Regions from separate parts of the Homo sapiens genome. Here all the other regions are linked to region 1. Evidence: fine-mapped expression QTL. A gene starts in region 1. Each other region holds a variant in brackets. All regions are shown on one strand. Distances are between the middles of the regions. Region 1 holds the start of ELK3 (ETS transcription factor ELK3). Region 2 overlaps ELK3 (ETS transcription factor ELK3). Region 3 holds the start of LOC105369923 (a long non-coding RNA gene).

Region 1 (4,242 bases):
GGAACTTTTTCCCCCTGCAGCAGCAGAATCCCTTTAACCCTCTCCGCAGCCAACTCCAAAAACAACTCAGCCTCCCCTTTCCCCGCCACCCCCAGGCTGGAGGACTGGGGTGGGGGTAGTTAAAGACCGGCCAGGGGCTTTCAAATGAGGGAGGGTGGGAGGGGGCTGGCGGGGAAGGGGCGGGGGACCCCTCGAACACTACAAAGGAAACTGTAAAAGGCACAAATACATAAACCTAAGAAGGAGCAAACCACAGTTTCTTTGTGAGCTCCTCTAGTGAGTCATTTTCAAGATGCTGTCTGCTGCCAGTTTCAAAGCGGAAGCGCATGGCAATTAGTCTTGCCGTTTCCAGACAAGCCAGAAACTCTCCCGACACTCGTTTTTTTTTCTTTCTAAAAAGCCCCTTTTGCAGTTTCTGAAATAACATTTCTTGCTTCCACCTCCACCCGCCGCCTAACTGCAGCTTGTCCCTAGGATGATTCGGTTCAGAAAAGATAACAAAACCAAGACCTTTTATTTTTGCTTTTTAACTACTCCAAAATCTTAATCCCGCCTCCCCAAAAGTTACAGTAGCGTCACAGGCCAACGTTGAGTTCGAAGGTAAACAGGGATGGGGAGTGGAAGGGGCCCCAAGATCATTTCTTGCCTGGTCCTTCTCCAAAACCATGCCCAATAGAGACCACCGGCTTTTAAATGTCCGATGGGGCGTGCGCCTGGGGCGGTGACCTGGGCGGGGGTCACCTGCCAAGCGAGAGTGGACGCAGCCCCCAGCCCCACACCTTCGCGACCCATGTCCTCCACCGCCCTCTCCATCCCTGTCTTCCTCCCTGGATCCGAGCACCAGTGCACTTTGCCCACTCGAGGGGAGCCTGACTGCGGTCCCAGCTGGAAGGTCGGCGGTGGTCCAGCCTCCAGGCACTCAGCCTGCTCCTGCCACGGTTCTTCCCAGGGACCCGAAGTCTCGCCGTCCCCCGCTCCCCGCGCTGCCTGCAGCGGGGCCCTGGGCGAGCTCCCAGGGTTGCACGCCCGGCGCCCCTTCCTCTGGGGTCGCAGCGCAGCCCCAGGGAGGGGAGCCGCGGGCGCAGGGTCCCCGCAGCCCCGGGCCCGGCGCGAGCTCGGGCGACGGCGGTGGCAGCGACGCGGGCGCAGGAGCATCCGCGGCGCCCCCTCCCCGCGGCCGGCCCTCCCGCGCGGACGCACCGCCACCCCCACCCCGGCCCGCAGCCCACCCCGCGGCGCCCCCCGCCCCACCCCCACCGCGCCCAAGAAAAGAAAGAAAAAAAGAAAACACCCCCAAACAAACTTTTTAAGTGTCCGAGCAACAGGCAGAAGCCCTGTTACCTACCCAGATGTGGGGGAGTCTTCTTCGGGGGGAATTTCTAGGAGGACCCGGGCGAAAGCCCCCGACTTTCCATGCTGACAGGCGTCTGCAGACGGTCTGTGGCTCTTGTAATGAGATCCTGATTTTTCCCCCTTTTTTTCTTTCTCTCGCTCCTCTTTTTTTTTCCCCTCTGGTGTGTGTGAGAGCAGGAAGTTGGAGCAGTCAGGCCGAGCCGGCTCACTTCCTTTACTGCATTATTCCCCAGGCGGTGTGCAGTCTGTGTAAACAGGCTTTTCCGCCCCGCGCCGCGCGCCCCGGCCGCGGCTGTGCGCCGGGGCTGGCCGCCCAGGCCCGCGCCTCCCCCGCCGCCCCGGCCCCGTGCGCGCCCCGCACCGCCCCCACCCGCCCCGCTTCCTGCGCGGCCACCCCGGGGAGGAGCCTCCGACCCGCGGCGACTCCGCGCGGCCGCAGCCCCTCCCCACGGGGAGGGGGGTCCGCCCGCAACCCGCAGAAGCCGCCGCGCTTCCCGGGACACCGGGGATCCCTCCTCACCTCAACCCCTGGGGGTCGAGCGCGCGGGGCACCACGACGGGGTCGTGCCCTGCGCAGTTGGCCCGGGAGGGGGGTCCCGAGGTGGGGAGGCGGCTGGACTCGCTGTTTCCCATCCGCTGGGATGGAAGAGTTGGGGGGCAGAGGGGAATCGAGAGTGGGGTTCAGGGTTTGGTTGCTCTGGGCAAAGGACTGCTTTTCTTGTGGGTGCGGGCACAGTTTCCGTCTGGGGTTGGAGATGGACACCGTTCCTGTCTGGGTTTTCGGTGTTTTAAAAGCCAGCCCTCGGCCGGGCGTGCTGGCTCACGCCTGTAATCTGAGCACTTTGGGAGGCCAAGGCGGATGGATCACCTAAGGTCAGGAGTTCGAGACCAGCCTGGCCAACACGGCGAATCCCCGTCTGTACTAAAAATACCAAAACAACAACAACAAAAACAGCCAGGTGTGGTGGTGGGTCCCTATAATCCCAGCTACTTGGCAGGCTGAGGCGAGAGAATCGCTTGAACCTGGGAGGCAGAGGTTGCAGTGAGCTGAGATCGCCCCATTGCACTCCAACCTGGGCAACCAGCGAAACTCCGTCTCAAAAAAATAAAAAAGCCAGCCCTCAGTTGGGGGGCGAGCCTGTGGGGAAAGGATAAGGAGCCACAACACTGGAAGTCATGGAAATAATGCCCGCAGGGTCAGAGACTGAGGCTTGAAGGGAGCCTCTGTGGTCTCAGAACTGGTCTTCACACCTCCACATCCCTCAAGGAGGTCCTGCCTCTGAGGGCTCAGGCCAGGCTCTGATGGGAGAGCCTGCCCATTGCCCTAGGCTGAGACAAGGTTGGGGGGGATGGCTGTTGAAGAGCCTCTCCCTTCCCAGGCCTGCGCCCCAACCTCACTGCTCACCTTCCAGAACCTTCCATTCCCATGCCGCCACTTAGCAGCCCAGACCCCTGGTTTTCAAACTTGACCCAAGGGGCTTGTTAAACCACTAGTGGCTGGGCCTCTCCTGGAGTCCCAGATTCAGTAGGTCGGGGGTGGTTCCGGGCCCCGGCTAATGTCAGAATCACCTGGGGAGTGTTTTGACACTCTCCAACAATATACTCAACCCAGGCCAATTAAGTCAGATTCTCTGGGGGCCGGGTGTGAGTCCTTTCAAAAGGACCACATTCTAAGAGTTCCTCCACTACGTTTGTTTCTAGTTTTGCAGTCTCTCCTGAAAGATTATTTTGTTTACAAATTTCTCACTGCCATCAACTGTGAGCTGCTAAAGGGCACGGGGTATGTTTTACTGATTAGTACCACATCCCAGCTCCAAGTGCCTATCAGAGCACACAGGTGATAGGAATTTCCTTCGGGCATTTGCTTCAGGGCTCCTGTGGGTAGTCCACTGGAAAGGGTGGGAGAATGCCCTCCAGACCTCTGAGAAGGAGTGGGAAACCCGTGGGGTGTAGGGTGGGGGCACGGTAGGAGAGTGGGGCAGAAGGAGAAGATATGGAAAAGAGGGCTGCTTATCAACCCCTGATTTCCCACAGCTAATTTTCCAATTAGGGTATTATTGTTTTAATCCCCAGTCATCTTCTTCTGTCACTCAGTAGAACACCTATGGTGTCCCTATATGATCCAGCTGTTGGACTGAGAGAATGTAAACTTATTATCCTCAGGGAAAAAAAAAAAATCCACACAGTTAAGAACTCATGTTGCTTTGCTTTAGGAGATATATGCCTGAAAGAAACCGGTCTGAAAAGGCTATGTTCTGTATGATTCCAAACTATATGACATTTTGTAAAAGGCACTATGGAGATAGTACAAAAGATCAGTGGTTGTCAGGGGTTAGCAGGGAGGGAGGGGTGGACAGGAGGAGCACAGAGGGCAAGGAAACTACTACTCGGTATGATACTATAATGGTGGACACATTTGTTAAGACCCACAGAATATACAACACCAAGAATGAACTCTAATGTAAACCATGGACTTTGGGTGATAGTGATGTGTCAATGTAGATTCAATTACAACAAAGGTACCACTCTGGTGGGGGATGTTGATGATTGGGGAAGCTGTACACGTGTCAGGGCAGGAGGTATATGGGAAACCGCTGTGCCTCCTTCTCAGTTTTGCTGTGAGTCTAAAATCACTTTAGGGTTGGGCATAGTGGCTCACGCCTGTAATCCCAACACTTTGGGAGGCCGAGGTGGATGGATCACCTGAGGTCAGAAGTTCGAGACCAGCCTGGTCAACATGGTGAACCCCCATCTCTACTAATAATACAAAACTTAGCCAGGTATGGTGGCAGATGCCTGTAATTCCAGCTACTCAGGAGGCTGAGGCACGAGAATTGCTTGAACCTGGGATGTGGAGTTTGCAGTGAGCCAAGATCAAGCCACTGCACT
Region 2 (4,242 bases), 29 kb before region 1:
GCCCAGGCCAGGGAAGAGATGAGTCAAGTCCCAGACACAGAGGGAGGACTTCTTTTTTTGATACCTTGATTGAAAACAATGAAAATGCTTTTTGAGTCTCAAAGCCCAGCTTTTAGGCACTCTGCCAGCAGGCAACGGGAGTGTTTTCCTTCAGCGGCCCCAGTTCCCACTGCAGAATTTAGAACCTGGGAAAACACGCAAAACAATAAGCCATCTGCGAGGCTTTCAGACAGTGCAATTTGCAAGAAGTGCTTTTATATCTTAGTAGGACTCTGCAGTAAGTCAGGATTAATTAATTGCTACGTTAAAGGAGAGCACCTTTAGCATTTCAATGACACAATCACGTGCAATTACGATCACATAAAGGAACACTTTATAATTAATGATGTCTCTACTTCCTGAAACGTATAATCCTTATGTCTTGAATTCCAAAGGGGTTGGCAGACGGCATACCCTAAATATAGATCAGGAACTAATATTTAAATCAGTTTTTAATTCACCTTTTAATATGAACAATAAAACCAGAACAAAAGCTTACCATTATCATGGCTCTATGCCTTTATGTCTTAGAGGCTAAATATTCAGCAACAACAGATTCAAACTGAAATGGCTAACAATTAAGGCCTGAAATGGTTCTCCTAAACAGCAATAATTTTGCCCTAGCAAGCACATTAAAACTGCTTTTCCAGAAATGCATTAAAACTCACTCCAACTGTCCTGGTTTTGGCAACTACGCTATATTATCACTTATCAAGGCACTCTGCCTCATCTCTATGACTTAAAAATGAACATGTTTTTTCTTCCAATTAGGGAAGTTTCCCATGAAGTTGCAAGCACCACATACCAAGCAGTGTTCTAAGTACTTATATGTAATGGCTCGGTCGGTCATCACCACAATCCTGAGACAGGATTCCTACTCCTATTAGCAGTGTTCTAAGTACTTACACGTAATGGCTCGGTTGGTCATCACAATCCTGAGACAGGATTCCTACTCCTATTAGCAGCGTTCTAAGTACTTACATGTAATGGCTCGGTCGGTCATCACCACAATCCTGAGACAGGATTCCTATTCCTATTATTATTCCTATGCTGATTCCTGTTTTATAAACGAGGATACTGAGGCACTGAATTGTTAAAAAATAATCTGCCAAAGCTACCACCTTCCAGGAAAGGTCCCTTTAATTGAACCACAAACCAGACAGGATAAACAGACTTTCCGGATTTTAACACGCATTGTGTCATTCAAGCAATTCAACATGAGGAAAGCCCCAGAGCCTGCCTGCATCTCATTTGTATTGTGAGCAAAGTTCTTCAGCAAACTCAGACGAAAATGCAGAAGAAACAAAATGTGACCCTCAGTAATATCCAAAGGGCGTCCAGAGGGTGGGGAAAATCCCTACAGCACAGCTTTTCTCCAAAAAGAAGGTATGCACTGCCCCTATTTTATTTTCTAACTTGATTCATAGCACGCTATTATTTTCTTTCATCAGTGAACTACGCAGAGGGGATTCCACCCTCCCCAAGACGGCCCCATGCAAGGTCAAGGGTTTACCTTGTCATAATAGTATCGCAGGGCTCTGCTCAGCTTATCATAGTTCATATTTGTTTTGTTTTTTCGGAGTCCCCACAGCTTGGCCACTTCTTCTGCTTTGAGGAGCTTGAATTCACCATCGTTCGAGGTCCAGCAGATCAAATGCTCATGTTTCTGATCCAGCAGCAACTGCAACAGGAACTGCCACAGCGTGATTGCACTCTCCATACCTGCAGGGAGAGGAGGCCAGGTCAGAGCTGCTGGTCAC[G/A]ATGCCGACCAAACTTGGCGAGGAGAGAGGGGGCTTCAGAATGGGCAACTCAGCTGTCCCCTCCTTCCCCCAGTGAACCTAATAAAAAGTAGCTTTCACTTCCATCTCAAGGGGCCACTCTGAACCAGGAGCTTCCTGGCTGCATTTCTGTAAGGAGCCACAATTCAGAAATACAGGGAGGCCCTGTGATCCTCCTCTATTCACCACATGTCCCCACGAGTGACAGCGATGCATGGGGAATGATGCAGAACAATGATTAATGACATGACCACTTGCAGAATGAGTCCCCATTCAAACCATTCCCCACTTAACACAAGTGTCTATTCCCGCCCATCCCATCAATTTCTTTGTGGGTCCGTGATATAGTTTGGATGTGTGCCCCGCCCAAATCTCATGTTGAATTGTAATCCCCAACGTTGGAGGTGGGGCCTGGTGGGAAGTGACTGGATCCTAAGGGTGGATTTCTCATGAATGGTTTAGCACCATCTCCCTTGGTACCATCCTTGAGTTAGTGACTGAGTTCTCATGAGATCTGGTCATTTAACAGTGTGTGGCACCTTGACCCTCGCTTTCTTGCTCTTGCTCCGGCCATGTGACACGCCTGCTCCCCTTTTGCCTTCTGCCATGATTGCAGGTTTCCTGAGGCCTCCCCAGAAACCCAGCAGATGCCAGCATCATGCTTCCTGTACAGCCTGCAGAACTGTGAGCCCATTAAACCGCTTTTCTTTATAAATTATACAGTCTGGGGTATTTCTCTATAGCAATGTGAGAAAGAACTAATATAGTCGGTCTCTAACTAAAATGCTGGACCCCATACTTTATACAGGTGCCTGGAATATCTCTCCTGTGGTTGTGGTATATGTCTAAGTGTAACTGCCTTTCCTACTGTGATGAGCTTCACGAGGAAAGGACTTTGCTGGATTATTTTGTATTGCCAGCACTCTGATAACCCATACAATGCTCAAAGCTGCCCAGTCCGTGGATGCTTGTGAAACCGAACAATCACTGCCAATTGCAGAGACCTTCCCTTTCCCGGCACTCACCATGCTGCAGGTCAAAGCCCACCATCACAGATGCACAGATGGGAAAAGCAATTTCTCCCATGAAGAGACAAAAACCTATATATACAATGTTATCCTTTTCCTTCAACTCTGGTGTGAACTTTTTAAATGCTATTTCTTCTGGCTAAAATGCTGTTCCTTAGCTTTGGAGCCTGGTGAACTCTTTCTCATCCATTGTGACCCAGCTCAAATAGGGCCTTCTCAAGGAAGTTTTTCCCCACTCCTGGGCAGTTTCTCAATTTCAGGCCTTTGAGGACTTTCATGACAATAGGTATTGATTCTAAGTAGTAATAATAATAATAATCCATTTGTGTTATCAATCCTCATTACATTTAAAAAAAGGTGGTTAGACTGGCCTCAAAAGCTTTGCCACGGATCAACTGTTGTGAGTGGCACAGAGAGCTAGGGATCATCCCCTTGGATAGGAGGGAGACACTGAAGTCCTGGTGGGCGGGGGGCAGGGGACTGAACCTGGAGTGACCGCAACCCAGGGGGCAGCTCTGGGAGACCTGGAAGCCAGAATAATTGCCTTGGGGAGGGTTATTTGTACCAATATTGTCAACCCCACAACTCCTCTCAATTAAAGGAAAGTAGACTAGGAGTGCTCTCCAATTACCCACAGGGCATTTTATTTAGGGCTCTTTAAAGGGGATATTCTTTACAGAAATCAGTATTAACCACAATGGTCTGTAAGACAGTCATTTCACTGCTGGGTCAAAACCACCTCTGCATCTCACAAATCTTGCAAGCCCCCACTTTGCTGGGATGCATGGCAGCTGACGAGTCCCAACTCCTCCTATGAACCACCCTTCTGATGACTTGGATATGAGCCACAACTTTCTTCTCTTCACTGGCACTAAGAACGGCTAACAGTTGTCGCAAATTCTTGAGATTTTCTTGGCCAAACATGTCAGTCAGTCAGCTTTAACATATCTTTGAAACTTTAAGTGCCTGCTCAGATGAATCTGCTCCTGAGGGCAGAAGGCTGCCGGTGGGTTTGGAGGTCTGCAGGGAAGGGACTGTGGGGCCTCTGCTCACATGCCAGGTGGGAAAGTGGTCGGCCACCGCCACCCCCCACTTTTAACTGACATCACGTTCCGAATGGGACAGGAGGGCAGCAGAAACATCTATCCATGTATTTTACTACACTTAGCATTTCCACCTGCCTGGCCTCCTCGGAGCTTCTTGTGCATCACAGAATCACTTTTCATTGCAATCCAACCCCATGTGTCAGAGACCATGTTCTGGGCATGACTTATGAGAACCCATATGGCAGACTTGTTAAATGTTCTCAACTGCCCTCTCCTTAGGTGACTGTGTAGCCCTGCACTGGAGTGGCTGTGGGAGGAGTGCTGACATTGGGGCTTTGCCATGTGATTGCA
Region 3 (4,242 bases), 98 kb after region 1:
GACCTACCCCTGGCCTGGAAATCAAGTACTTTATCCACCACAGTATACTGTTTATTTGATTTCTGACATGGAATTTTCTGGAGTCATTAAAAATACCAAATATAGTTTAATGGAGCAATAAAGTAAATGGCAACTACATTTTCCCAATTGCTCAAGTCAGAATCTTGAAATCAGGCAGGGTGTGGTGGCTCACGCCTGTAATCCCAACACTTTGGGAGGCCAAGGTGGGTGGATCACCTGATGTCAGGATTTCAAGAACAGCCTGGTCAACATGGTGAAACCCCACGTATTTTGTATTGTGTAAAAATACAAAAATTAGCCGGGAGTGGCGGCGCACACCTGTAATTCTAGCTACTTGGGAGGCTGAGGCAGGAGAATCGCTTGAACGCCGGAGGCGGAGGTGCAGTGAGCTGAGATCATGCTTGGACAACAAAAGTGAAACTCCGTCTCAATTAAAAAAAAAAAAATCTTGAAATCATTCTTGACTCCTTTATTTCTCACATTCCACTCCCATATCCAACCTATCATCAAAATCAATTAGCTCTACCACAAAAAATATCTAGAATCTGATCCCTTCTCACTTAACCACTACTGTCTCTTATCTACAGAGAAGCCAAAGTAATCCTTTTAAATAGTAAGTCATACCATGTCACTCCTAAGCTCAAAGGCCCTCAGTGACTCTCATATCAATCCAAAGAAAAGCAAAAAGCAAAAAGCAAGACTCTTCATGCTGTGGCCTGTTACCTCTCCACTCTCATCTCCTACTACTCCCATCTTGCTCACTCTGCTTCAGCCAGACTGGCTTCTTGCTAGATCCCCAAAAATATCCAGCATGCCCCTGCCTTAAGGCCTTTGTATGTGCTGTTCCCTTGGCCTGAACACCTTTCTTTCCAATATCCGCTGGGCTCATCCCCTTTGTTCAAAAATGACATTATCAGAAAGGCCCTGCATGACCAGTCAGCGTGAAAACACACCCAGCCAATCTTTAAGTCTCATACCTTGCTTTATTTTCATAGCACTTACCATTACCTAAAATATTTAAGTATTTGTGTACACGTCATTTTTCTCCCCTCCTGAATGAAAGTTCACGACAGCAAAATTATTCACTAGTACAGCCCCAATATCTAGAACAGTGAAGGCATTCAACATATAGTTACTGAAAGTGAATGAAAGCTTTAGAGCAAATAATATACGAAAGAGGAAATAGCTAACAACAGATGAAAAATGTTCAGTTTTTCCAATAAGCAAAGAAATACAAATTAAAATATAGCCAAGACAATATTTTTGCCTATTAAGTTGGCAAGAACTATCAAGTAATAAATCCATTGCTGTTGATAAGCATTGAAATTGGTATTTTCATGTAATTTTGGTGGCCAGTCTCATTAATTCATTTAAGAGATATTTATTGGGTACCTACTATATATACACTGTGCAATTTGCCAATATATACTCTAATGTGTCATAAGGCTCAGAGTCTCTGTATTAGTCAGGAAAGACTAGGTTACCAGTGGTAACAAATTAACCCCAGAATCCTAGTAGTTTACTGTAACAAAAGTTCCAACATACCCACCTCAGGTTGGTGAACAGGGAGGGTTGTTCTGTGTCACTCAGGGACTCTACCATCTGGAATGTCATTGGTCACCCTTGCAGAAAACAGGAGAGATTGGCAAATCATGCATAGGCTTTCTATAGCCACATCCAGGAAATTCACACATCACTTCCATTCACAATGAAGTGTGCTTCATTGTCCAGAGCTATTCATATGACCCTACCCAATGGCAAGGAGGCTGAGAAGTGAAGCCTCCTTTCTGCATGCCCAAAAGGAGCAGAGAAACACAGATGTTGGTAAATACTAATAATGTCTGCTATAGTCCTTGACCAAGAAATCTTACCACTCTACTAAAATAACCTAAAGTACATAAAAGGCCTCATTAAGGAAAATATTCATTGATGTTTTATTTATTATTTTGATAGCCCAAAAGAATCTTATTGGATAATGAGGAAATGAGTAATGGAATTATGGTTTATCCATATGCAATAAATTATTGTGCAGTCATAAAAATAGTAGTTAATGAAGAATCTATATATGGAAAAATAATTTTAACAAA[G/A]GAGTAAGTAAAAATTAGGAAACAAATAAAATGGGTATTATGATCACAAGGCCATAAAAATATACCTGATTTTAAAAAGTCTGAGGAAATACACTGAAATGTTTTCATTCAACAAATACCTGCTAGGCGCTAGGCCCTGCAGATTCAAAGATTAAATACACTATCTTTGTTCTAGAGGTGCTACAATCTTATAAGAATATCCAAAATGAGCCAAAAGAAATCCTTGCCTAAACCCAGAACAGTTATTCTAATAATTTTATGGTTGTACATAAGGATACACTTTCATGCCGTCATGATTTGAATCACTCAGAGAATGAGAGGCAGAGAGTCATCATTCATTCCATAGATAGTTATCAAACATGTCCTAAGTGGGTCACAGAGTTGATCAAGACACCATACCATGCTCACTGACCCCAGAAGGCTTAGAGTCTAGCTGGAATCCTACATGTCAAACAGGCTGGTCCTTGCTGGCCTCAGCTTCTGGCCTGATGAACTCCTTTACATAATGCTCTGTATCAGACCTATGAAAGTTCCTGGTGCCTAAAATAGTTCCTGGCATATAGTTTATAGTTTGGTGTCCAGTAAATTCTGGTGTTTTCCCCAAACCAACTCTACCTATAGGCTTTCCATTTCAGTTGATGGTATCTACATCCTTCAATGCTCAGGTCAAAAATATGGAGTCATTCTCAACACCTCTCTTTCTCTCACACCCTACAAATCTTTTTCAGAAAACCTTATAGCTCCCGCCTTCTGAAATATATCACAGAATCAGACCACTTTTCACTCCTCCACTGCCACCTCCATCTTTCGCCATTAGTGCCGCAGCCTCCTACCTGGTCTCCAGGCTTCTCCCCTGGCCCCTGCATTCTGTTCTCCATACGGCAGGCATGAAGAGCTGTTTAAATCCTAAGTCTGACCCCACCACTCCTCTGCTCAACTCTACTCAAACAACTCAGCTTAAAGAGTGAAATTTAGAGTTCTCACAATGACCTTTATGGTCCCTCTCTGGAGTCTCAGCTTTGTTAGATGCAAGTTAGCAGCTGTTAGTAGCAACATGGTATAACACCGCCTTTGCAATCCAGAATTGGAATTCAGAGATAATATGACCTCCCTCCATGCACAATTTTTAAGAGTCATATCTAAAATACAAAGCAGAAATAAAAAGAAAGCCCACAATAAGAGATGCATTTTAATATGTAAACATTCAGGCACAACTACAGTAGAAGACAAAAACATCTCCGTGAATTTCACAAACACCCACTATCAGATGGCACCACCCCATTGAAAACCACTGCCCTTTACCATCTGGGCTGGCTTCCTCTCTCTAAACTAAACACCAGCCCTCAGGCAGTTCACTCACTCTGCTCCAGCCACACCTGCTTCCCTGCTGTTTTGGACCAGTAAGTCACCTTCCTGTCTGGAGTCTTTGCAATTGCAGGATTCCCTCAGGGAGCCACGTGGCTCACTCCCTCCGCCTTCAGGTCTTTGCTCAAACATTCTTTTCTCAGAGAAGCCTTCCCTGACCACTCTCTTTAAAATAACGACCTTCCTCTCCCCAGACAGCACTCCTTCTCACCTCTCCCTGCTTATTTTTCTCCATACGCTTATTGTCTGACATACTAGATATTTTATTTATGATGTTGTCTGTGTCCACTCCATGAGGTCACTGATTTTTCCTGTTTGTCTTCTACTATATCCCTATTATGTAAATGAGTGCTTGGCACAAGGTGAGCGTTCAATAAATATTTGTTGAATGAATGAAAACAGTGAACAAGGGATATGTATTGAGTGACTGACTGAATGAATTGCTACAGACACCCAGCAATCATGGCATTAGTCCTGAACGCCTGGCCTCTGCTCCTCTGTACCTCACTCCTTGCCAAACTTGTTCTGTCCCACATGCTTGTTGCTTTCCACTGTATACATTCTTCATTTCCCAATTTGAAGCTCGACCTGGCTTCTTCCAACCTTGACTTCACATTATGAATTTTGTCTCACCCCCAGGCATGATGAAATTGTGACAGCTTCCTAGCAACACCCAACTTGACCTCCTTCCTGCCTTCTATCCTGTGTCCCTCCCCTCCCCGCTTTTCAACACTCCATAGCTTTATCCACATATGTACTTGCTCTAATA

Evidence for each region. PIP is the estimated chance that this variant, and not a neighbour inherited with it, causes the effect. A credible set is the group of variants that fine-mapping cannot tell apart.
Region 2: its variant is the best candidate, but not a certain one, in a credible set for the expression of ELK3 in whole blood (TOPMed, PIP 0.57).
Region 3: its variant is the best candidate, but not a certain one, in a credible set for the expression of ELK3 in neutrophils (BLUEPRINT, PIP 0.52).

Annotation. Positions count from the first base shown.
Region 1 is chr12:96,191,809-96,196,050 of GRCh38, reverse strand. It overlaps ELK3 (ETS transcription factor ELK3), which reads right to left and starts at 1,676. Exons shown (of 5, transcript NM_005230.4): 1 at 1,346-1,676. RefSeq lists an enhancer at 301-380 and a silencer at 1,712-1,851.
Region 2 is chr12:96,221,084-96,225,325 of GRCh38, reverse strand. ELK3 (ETS transcription factor ELK3) reads right to left here. Exons shown (of 5, transcript NM_005230.4): 2 at 1,553-1,761. The coding sequence starts at 1,759. Among named protein-coding and RNA genes, the nearest start is that of ELK3, 29 kb to the right of the region's middle. RefSeq lists an enhancer at 1,303-1,352. The variant G/A (reference allele first, on the strand shown) is at 1,800.
Region 3 is chr12:96,093,661-96,097,902 of GRCh38, reverse strand. It overlaps LOC105369923 (a long non-coding RNA gene), which reads right to left and starts at 1,860. Exons shown (of 3, transcript XR_945238.2): 1 at 1,571-1,860. The variant G/A (reference allele first, on the strand shown) is at 2,109.